2 separate regions of the Homo sapiens genome follow, and region 1 is linked to region 2. Evidence: fine-mapped expression QTL. Tissue or cell type: adrenal gland. Region 2 holds a variant in brackets; the other region holds the start of a gene. All regions are shown on one strand. Distances are between the middles of the regions.

Region 1 (4,410 bases), 67 kb before region 2:
TACTATACTTTTTTGTATTGAAACAAGAGAGTCAGACATTTGCAAAATATTACAATATACAGAATCCACCATCTTTTGGAGGTTTTTTCCAGTATATAGATATTGATTATCATATATAGTGAACCAGATTTTATGTTTTGAAATGGCTGACATAACCTTATTTATTATACAAGTGGACATTTCATTAAAATCAGAACTCATTAAATATTTTTTTCCTAAAGAGGAACATGTAATGGGTGGAGGAATTAGCTGAGATAAAAGCCTTCTTATGACATCTTCTAAAAATGAATGTGATAACATGGTACTATAGTCTGATGAAGACCTGGGTAGAGAAGTAAATTCTGTTAGGTTACTTTGAAGCTTTTGCAATATAATTTCAGGTTTGAGAGGGTAATATGAATGGGGTATGAGATGTTCCTTGAAGCAAGATGGCAGTTTGTAGTCTAAAATCTCTAACAATATGCCATTTGTTATTTGTTCTGCTATTGAGGCATTGTCGTATACCGGATTATTACCACAGGCCACTTTTAATTCATACTGCTGTAAAACATCATAATAAACTGAGTCAACAATTTTGCTAACAGTTTCTGTATGAACTGGTGGAAAACACAGCCTTTCTTCAGCATTCCGTAGAACAGTGACTTGAGCATTATTAAATTCATTCACTACATTGTTGACAAATAATGTATTCATCTCATTGAGCCAGGACACAGTGATGTTTTTATTTTTGCCCCACAATGACATAGAGAGATTAAAAAACAATTCTGAAATTATTCCTTCCAAAAATGTGGCTGAATAAACACCAGCATATATACCTTCCTGATGTAGCTTATTATGAATGGCTACCTTATCCATTTCCTTTGTTCTCTGTCTTTCAAAAGGTGACACAGAAGAGGATTTTACTGCACAATGCTTGTTAAATGGTGCTTGTATTTTGGAGCTAACCACACTGGGATTATTCAGGGATACTGTCAAAGAATTACTATCATAGCTCCTGAGTTCTAAAGAACTTTTACTCTGTCCTAATTCTATTAATTCTGACTTTCTTGCTTTTATGAAACTAGACTGTATTTCTCTTGTTCTGTAGTTCAAATGCTTATTTGCAAAAGGTAGACTTTCCGGAGCTTGTTGTATGCTGTGAGATAATTTGTCCATCAATGATTTAACCAAGCTGTGGGAAATAATAGTAAGCATAGAGTCTGATGTCAATAAGTCTTGATCAATTTCTGCCACATTCTCCAAAAGGTCTGACATGTAATCTACTTGAAGGCATTCACAGTCCATTCCTCCCTTACGATAATCAGATTTTCCATCTTCTACACTTTGAAGCATTTTTAAAAGTTGACATTCTTCTGCTGATGTTTCCTCTGAAACAGACCCTTTATCAGGAAAAGCAGTGCTTGTGCATTCTTCCAAAAGTATTCTGATAAGTTTCTCACATACAACATTGAGAAGAAAAACTGATTTTGAGGAGAGCTGTAGGTTATTGGTAAGTATGCTATTAGGTTGCTCATTATTCGAGGAGTAGAAATATGTTCTTTGTATTTTACCAGAATCCATACCCGTATCTAGGCATTCATCTGGTGAAAATAAATCTGAAACAATATTAAAAACTTTATTGACTACTTCTTTGGATTCACTTGTTTTTAGGTTACCAACCAGGCTGTTTAACTTACATGCAAGATAACTTAACTTATTTTTTTGAAAAAGTTGACCAATTTGTTGAGTAGAAAATTGCCAGTCTCTGGGGCTTGCCTGTCTATTGATTTTGTTGCAAAGGGGTACACTATTATTTCTATGCATAGAAAATGATTTGTTTCTTACATTGCTTTCAAAGTGATAATCTACTTCTATTTCTTTGGACAGTACATGAATCACTCCTACTAAGAGATCCTGAAAGAGGTCATCAAAGCCACCAGAAACTATTCCTGGACAGTAAGTGTATTTTGTAGGTATGGCAACCATTTTCTGTGCAATGTCAGCCTGTATAATTTTATTATTAAAAAGAATTTTAATAATGATTTCAGAAATACATAAAGCAAGTTCTCCAATGGAAATTGACCTGCTCTCAAACACTTGAGAATGAATTGAAATAATCTTGCTAAATGTTGCTTCTTGAATTTCCCATGCTTTCTCTTTTTCTCTACCCTTTTTGGTGCCATCAGAAATGCTCGAAGTTAAATGGTAAAGTACTGACTCAGTGAGATGTTCACAACATTGATAAATTGAAGAATCATCGTATATGTTTCTTAGGAACTGTTTTGATTCATATTTTTTCCTTGACCATGTAGAAACAGACATCTTTTCCTCACTAAAAACTTAAAAAAGGAAACATTGTAATTTTAGCATGGATTAAAGAAAATATAGAAAATTCAATATATTTGAAATTATTATTTACATATATATTTCACCCTTTGAGCAACTCACTAAAGAAAAATCTAAACAAAAAAAGAAATTAGATTTTCCTCAAACATTTATTTTCTCACCTTGCAAAATCTTAATTTTAGCCAATAAATTGAGAAAATAACACCCCAAAATTCAATCCTCTAAGTCAAATGCTGATGTCTGCCTTGGTTGGATGGTTATGAACTCTTAAGAAGCTGGAAAGCTTGGGGCAGAGAAATAATTTCCAGGCTTAGCGATGCATCCTACCATGTCTCCAGTGATACCTAGAGGTGCCATATAATTATTTTAAAATAGCTTTAGACAAAACATTTAATGTTATGCTATGTTTTACTTTTAGGACATTAAGGAGTTGTGTTGCAATATCAAGTTGACTAAAATAAAAGTGTGGCAACTCCAGAAAAGCTAGTAATAGATTGCAATAGCAGTAGTACTTTAGTCCCTAGATTATAGTTTGTCACAAAGAAGGAAGGTTGGCCCAGCCAGGTGAAGAACTCTATATTTGTTTTGTCCAAAATTCTATTTGTTACAAATCATTACCTATTTGCAATGGCCAACTGCTGGGTGTGGCAGCCAAGAGCAACACAGTTTTTTTCCTCAGAACTTAATTATATATTATATATCTTCATGTGTTATCAGGCAAGACTCTACACAGATAGAAGACTTTAAGCTGAGCTTTGACTGCTACACAGGTTTTGGCCATGTCAAGATACAGGGAATGAGGAAAAGGTATTCCTAGTGGAAGAAGGAACATGAGCGAAGTCACTGGAAGACCTTGGAGATGTCTGAGAATAGGAATATAGAATTGTTAGAGCCAAGTGTCAATGTGATGAAATCATGGATCTTCTCTTGCTTGTTTTGCTTTTGTTTATTTTTCTGAAATCAATTAAGTCATGCCTGGAGTAAGTCTATTTAAGAGTTTGTAGTTGTAGCTACATTACCGTCCATCTTGGGAGAATACTGGTTTTAAGGATGGAAAATAACCTCCTCGTGCAGGTGGGTAGGACTGCTAATATCTCCAATTAGAATGATGTGTGATGTATCTGGACTGGTGATGTAGCAAGTAATTATTGGTAACTGAAACTACTGACCTAGATCTGGGGTATTATAGTAATACTAAACTGAATTTTATTAATTGTCAATAATCAACTGTTTTTGATATACAAAATGACGATTACATGTTGTTTCACCTAATATATACACATGAGTATACTTAGAAAGATAATGCAAATATAATCCCTGTAATGATACAGTTGGAGTATTATATCTAAAAGGAATTTAAGTCAGAATACTGGAATGCAAATAAAACAAGATATTCAATTCTACTGTTCTTTTAAACTTTGAATAATAATAACAAAGCCTTCAAGAATACAAAAATTAAATGACTTTTAATCAGTTAACTGCACATCCCATATGATTATAAAGAAGTTATGCATAAGAATTTTAAAAACCCTTCCAAATTTATGCCTCATGCTCAACCAAAATCTCCTGCTTTAAAATGGCCTCATTTTCTCTCATTTGTAGATAGAGAAAACTGAGCAACACATCCTTCAAATTCAAATCCTGAAAACATTTATTTATTTTTATTTTTTTGCATTGTGATGAATTAAAAAGCAATTGAGGCTGAGCACAGTGGCTCATGCCAGTAATCCCAACACTTTGAGGGGCCGAGAAAGAAGGATCACATGAGGCCAGGAGTTTGAGACCAGCCTGCGCAACATAGCAAAACCCTGTCTCTACAAAAAGATTTTTAAAAATTAGAGTGCAGTGGCATGCCTGTGGTCCCAGCTATTTTGGGGGAAGGCTGAGATGGGAGGATGTCTTCAGTCCAGGAGTTCAAGGCTGCAGGAAGCAATGATCATGCCACTGTACTCTAGCCTCAGTGACAGAGACACTATTTCTAAATAAAATAAAATAATACATTTAAAATAAAATTAAAGTGCAACTCAGTAGTCATCTACCTCCAAGGGTATTTTCAGAAAAATAGTGAATACAGCTTTTTAGACA
Region 2 (4,410 bases):
GATCAGAAGACACCTCAGTTTAGGGTTAATTATTGCTTTATTCTCCAAACTCTACCCAGTGACTCATCCATCAGAAACTTTTCCAACCTAGCTGGTGGGAACAGGTAATGTTTACAGCTGTTTGTGAAAGCCCAGCACTATCTCTTTTGAGTGAATATTTTCCATGGCATATGGTAGTTTTCTCACAGTATTCTGACAAATATGCAGGAAATACTCAAAGATAATTCTCTGCACATCTTGAAAGTTCTCGTTCCATGCAGCTGTCCTCTTTCTACTTTTCTTTTGCATGCTCTAGCTCTATCTGCCTTCCTGGGCTCTGGGTTCTGTCTTCTGAACTCAGGGAGTCAGATGGGATCCATCTGGATTCTCCTTCCCTCTGCTGTGGTTTGAAAGTTCTTTCAAGTTTTATCAATATGCCTCGCCTCTTTTGTTTATTGTTTTTCAGAGATCATTGACCATTCCCTGATCTAGTGTCTTGAAAATTGTTGCTTCCTATATTCTGTTTATTTTTTAGCTGTTTCAGGGCATATCTTCTCCATGTTACTCTGTCTTAAGAGGAAATACAACTCAATTTTACTTGTGATAATCGATGTAGAGTTTTTAATTCTTTAGACAACAATTACTTTATTTGGGGAAAATCCCGCATATATGAATGTTGGTAGATGTTCAATCCCACTTTTTACTGAAATTAAGACGGGTCACATATTTTCATTTGGCATGCCTTGGAGGAGGGTCAAGGGCATGTGACTTTGTATTCTGAAAAGGAATTAATTCAAAGATTCTTGTAGGCTAAGGACCATGAAGTCAGGGTTAATGTCTGGTCACAGCACAAGCAACAATATTTTAATCCAATGACATCTGTGGTTTTATATTGTGTTTCCATTTTCCTCAACTTGGATTATTTCAGACTTTCTTACATATTCTCTGAGCTTTCTCAAATCTTTTCTGTCTAGGTTAGCCAGGCTGGTTTTCTATTATTTGCAACCCAAAGCCCTAGCTTATATAATAATCACTATACTCGCAGGTTTTCTTCATTTTTATTTATCATTTCTTAATGTAACTATATAAGCAGAATATTTAAATGTTTGGGTTTTACCACCTCCTTATGTCAAATTGAGAAATAAAATACAAGATCTTTAGGATCCTGTGTTGGTCAGGATTTTCAAGCAAAACAGAACCAACAGGGGATATGTGTTTATGTGTGTTAGTGTGTGTGTGTATCTTCCTCTATATATATACAGAGAGCTATCTACATATGCCAGTAGCCCAGCAAGCTGAGAAAGAGTTGCTGTTTGAATCCAAAGGCAGTCTGTTGGCAGAATTTCTTGGTTGGGGGAAATTAGTACTTGTTATGTTAAGCCCTGCAACTGATTGGATGAGACCCACTCATATTATGGAGGGCAATCTACTTGACTCAATGCCCACTGTTTTAAACGTTAATCTCATCCAGAAAACACCCTCGTAGAAACATTCCAAATGTTAGACCAAATATCTGGGTGCTGGATCTCAGCCACAATGATATGTAGAATTAAACATCACAGATCCCCATTTTTTGTCTATTTCATTAAGCTGAGCTAATTTCTGAATCTAAAAAATAGAAATGATCGTTTTAGTTTAGAAAAAGCATTCCAATTTAAGTTATACTCTTTAAAACACAATAGTTAATTAATGAACTCTTACGTGGATTCAATCTAGCCATAAACTTTTCTATTTATTTTAATTTGTATGTAGTTATATATACTTCCTTAATTTCTTGAATATGTAAGAGTTCATTTGATTATTTTTGCTTTCATCTAATATTTGACATATATTCTTAATAATGCCACCTTTTAATTAATATTTGGTTGACTGATATCTCACAATAACCTTATCTCTTTTTTTCTAAGCAAGGTATTTTTAAATTAAAAATAAAAAGTAAACTTTTGTT[G/T]AAAATTACTTGTCTTGTCTACTTTATCTTATATTGTCCAGCTTCAATAATTTAATCTGATAGTTTAAAATAATTAATATTAATAAATTCATCAGAAAGTAGACATAATAAAATGTTTTGATAATACATTGCAGTGATCATAATTCATTTAACAGTTAAAAAGGTAGCCTGCCCATAAAGCATATCTAAAATTGCTAGTAAAAGTAGCTAGTATATTGTAATGTAATAGAATTACTCATAATACAATAGACTGAAACTAAGAAACTTGAGGAATTGACATTAACATTCTAAAATGACAGAAAGTTTCAAAGATTTTAAAGGATTTTTTCCAGAAATGTACAGTAATGATTACAATGTGAAATCTAAAAAAAGCCTGAGAAATAAACAGGAAAAGAAGAATAGATATATAAATCTATAGTAATTAAGGCTGAATGTTAACTAGATTAAGGTTCAATGCTATCAAGTTGGTATATGCAGATATAGTAAAGGGCATATTAACATAAATTCCACACAGAAAGGTAAACACCACATTAGAAGAGTGTATGAGTTTCTTAGAGCTCCTGTAACAAAGTACCACAAGCTGGGTATCTGAAAATAACTGAAATTTATTCCCTCACAGTTCTGGAGATTAGAAGTCCAAAATCCAGGTATTGACAAGGCCATGGTCTCTCTGAAGGCTCTCTTGAAGAATCTTTTCTTATTTCTTCCCTGCTTTTGGTGATTGCTGGCAATCCTTGGCATTTCTTATATCACTCCAATCTCCGCTTCTGTCTTCACATGGCTGCTTCTCTGTGTGTGTGTCCATGTGTCCACATTTATCATCTCTTACAGGGATACCAATCATAGGATTAGAGCTCATATTAATCCAATATGGCCTTATTTTGGCCAGATTACATATGTAAATAGTCTATTTCCAAATAACTTCACATTTTGAGGTTCTGAGTGGACATGAATTTTATGAGTACCCATTTAACTAAGGACAAAGGGTGAGAGAACATCTTGCTGATGAGGTAAGACTGGTATATTGGCATGTCATTAAATACTTTGTTAAGGATATCAATTTGACAGAGGGCTCAAGAGTCTGTCTAGTAACAACAAAAATATAGATATCAGAATCTTCATGATGTATGTCAGTTTCTAAAGGATTCCAGAATCTGCAGAAGAGCAGATGGAATGAAACCACCAAGCCTCGTTTAATTGATTCACTAAGAGTACTTATTTTTTTTTTATTTTTGGAAAATAACTTCTTTGATGATGTTTTATGTATTTTTCAAATAATTATCACTGTTAAGAAAGAGAAAATGAAAACTTACATTAAAAATATAGTTAGGAACCACACAGTACCTTTTGATAATATGAGGTATATATCTTTGCCAACATCTCAGTCTTTAAAGTACTTTGCATTATACTTTGCATTGCTTTGTAATATATTTATCTTAGTGGTGTTGAAAAACTGATACTTAACACAGATTTCTGACCTGTTAAATAGTTCAGACCTTAAATAAAGGGCCCAGATTAAATATTGGTTGGAAAACTTACTCATCTATTCTCTCTCTCTCTGTCTCTTCTGTCTCTCTATGCACACACATACACACACACACACACAAGTGAAATATAAAATAAAGTCATGCTAAATACATTTTTAGTTTAAGCTTAAAATGTAAGGTAATGAGACATATACCACATCATAAGTGGAGAAAATTTCTTGGTAGTAAGAGACATTAAGAATATATAGTGCAATTTTAATAGCACAGACTCAGGTGTAAGATTGCCCGTGTTTAAACCCTATTTATTTCAACTCTTTGCTTTTTTTCTCATCTCTAAAATTATCATATCTTATGATATCATTGATTGGGCAGCATCAATACAGACAATGATTTATAGTGATCAGTCTGCCCCATCTCTATGTAGTCCTGATCATTGTACCATGTTATCTAGCTTAAAATCACAGAAAGACATTGAGGGGCTGGACTTTCTGTTTTTTATAGCTTTTTTTCATTTTAATTATTGGAATAAATTGCTCTTACAATCTCAGCCACTGTTACATATGTTAGGTGTTTGGGGGAAAAAGTTTGAAAAATAGCTAGAAAATATTATCCAGCAAAATGAGTATTTTTGTTTTATTAATCAAATGGCTGCAGTTTGTTTTTAAAATTTGTCACATATCCAAAATTATTATAAAACAAGTCTTCCTGCTTATTAACTTTATATATAAGTGAAGAGTAAGCAATTTACTGTTATATAATCAATTTCCAGTAAAACTATGTTAATACAAATAATAATATCTCCCACTTATTCCTCAATAAGTCTACTGTAGTTAAGAAGCCTTTAAAGCGGTTTCAAATTATCCCTGCCTTGTGATATTTATACTCTTATGTAACCTCAAACATTTAAAAGGGAACTGGACCTAGTGACTAGCTTCTAACAAATATAATATGGCAAAGGTGATGACTTTCAAAATGTTGCTTTCATCTTGCCCACCT

What was found. PIP is the estimated chance that this variant, and not a neighbour inherited with it, causes the effect.
Region 1: FSIP2-AS1 starts here. The variant in region 2 is the best candidate, but not a certain one, in a credible set for the expression of FSIP2-AS1 in adrenal gland (GTEx, PIP 0.51).

The regions. Positions count from the first base shown.
Region 1 is chr2:185,797,605-185,802,014 of GRCh38, reverse strand. It overlaps FSIP2-AS1 (FSIP2 antisense RNA 1), which reads left to right and starts at 1,865. Exons shown (of 3, transcript NR_144453.1): 1 at 1,865-1,935. It overlaps FSIP2 (fibrous sheath interacting protein 2), which reads right to left. Exons shown (of 23, transcript NM_173651.4): 17 at 1-2,318.
Region 2 is chr2:185,730,525-185,734,934 of GRCh38, reverse strand. All of the region lies in intron 1 of FSIP2-AS2 (FSIP2 antisense RNA 2), which reads left to right. Among named protein-coding and RNA genes, the nearest start is that of FSIP2, 6.1 kb to the left of the region's middle. The variant G/T (reference allele first, on the strand shown) is at 1,928.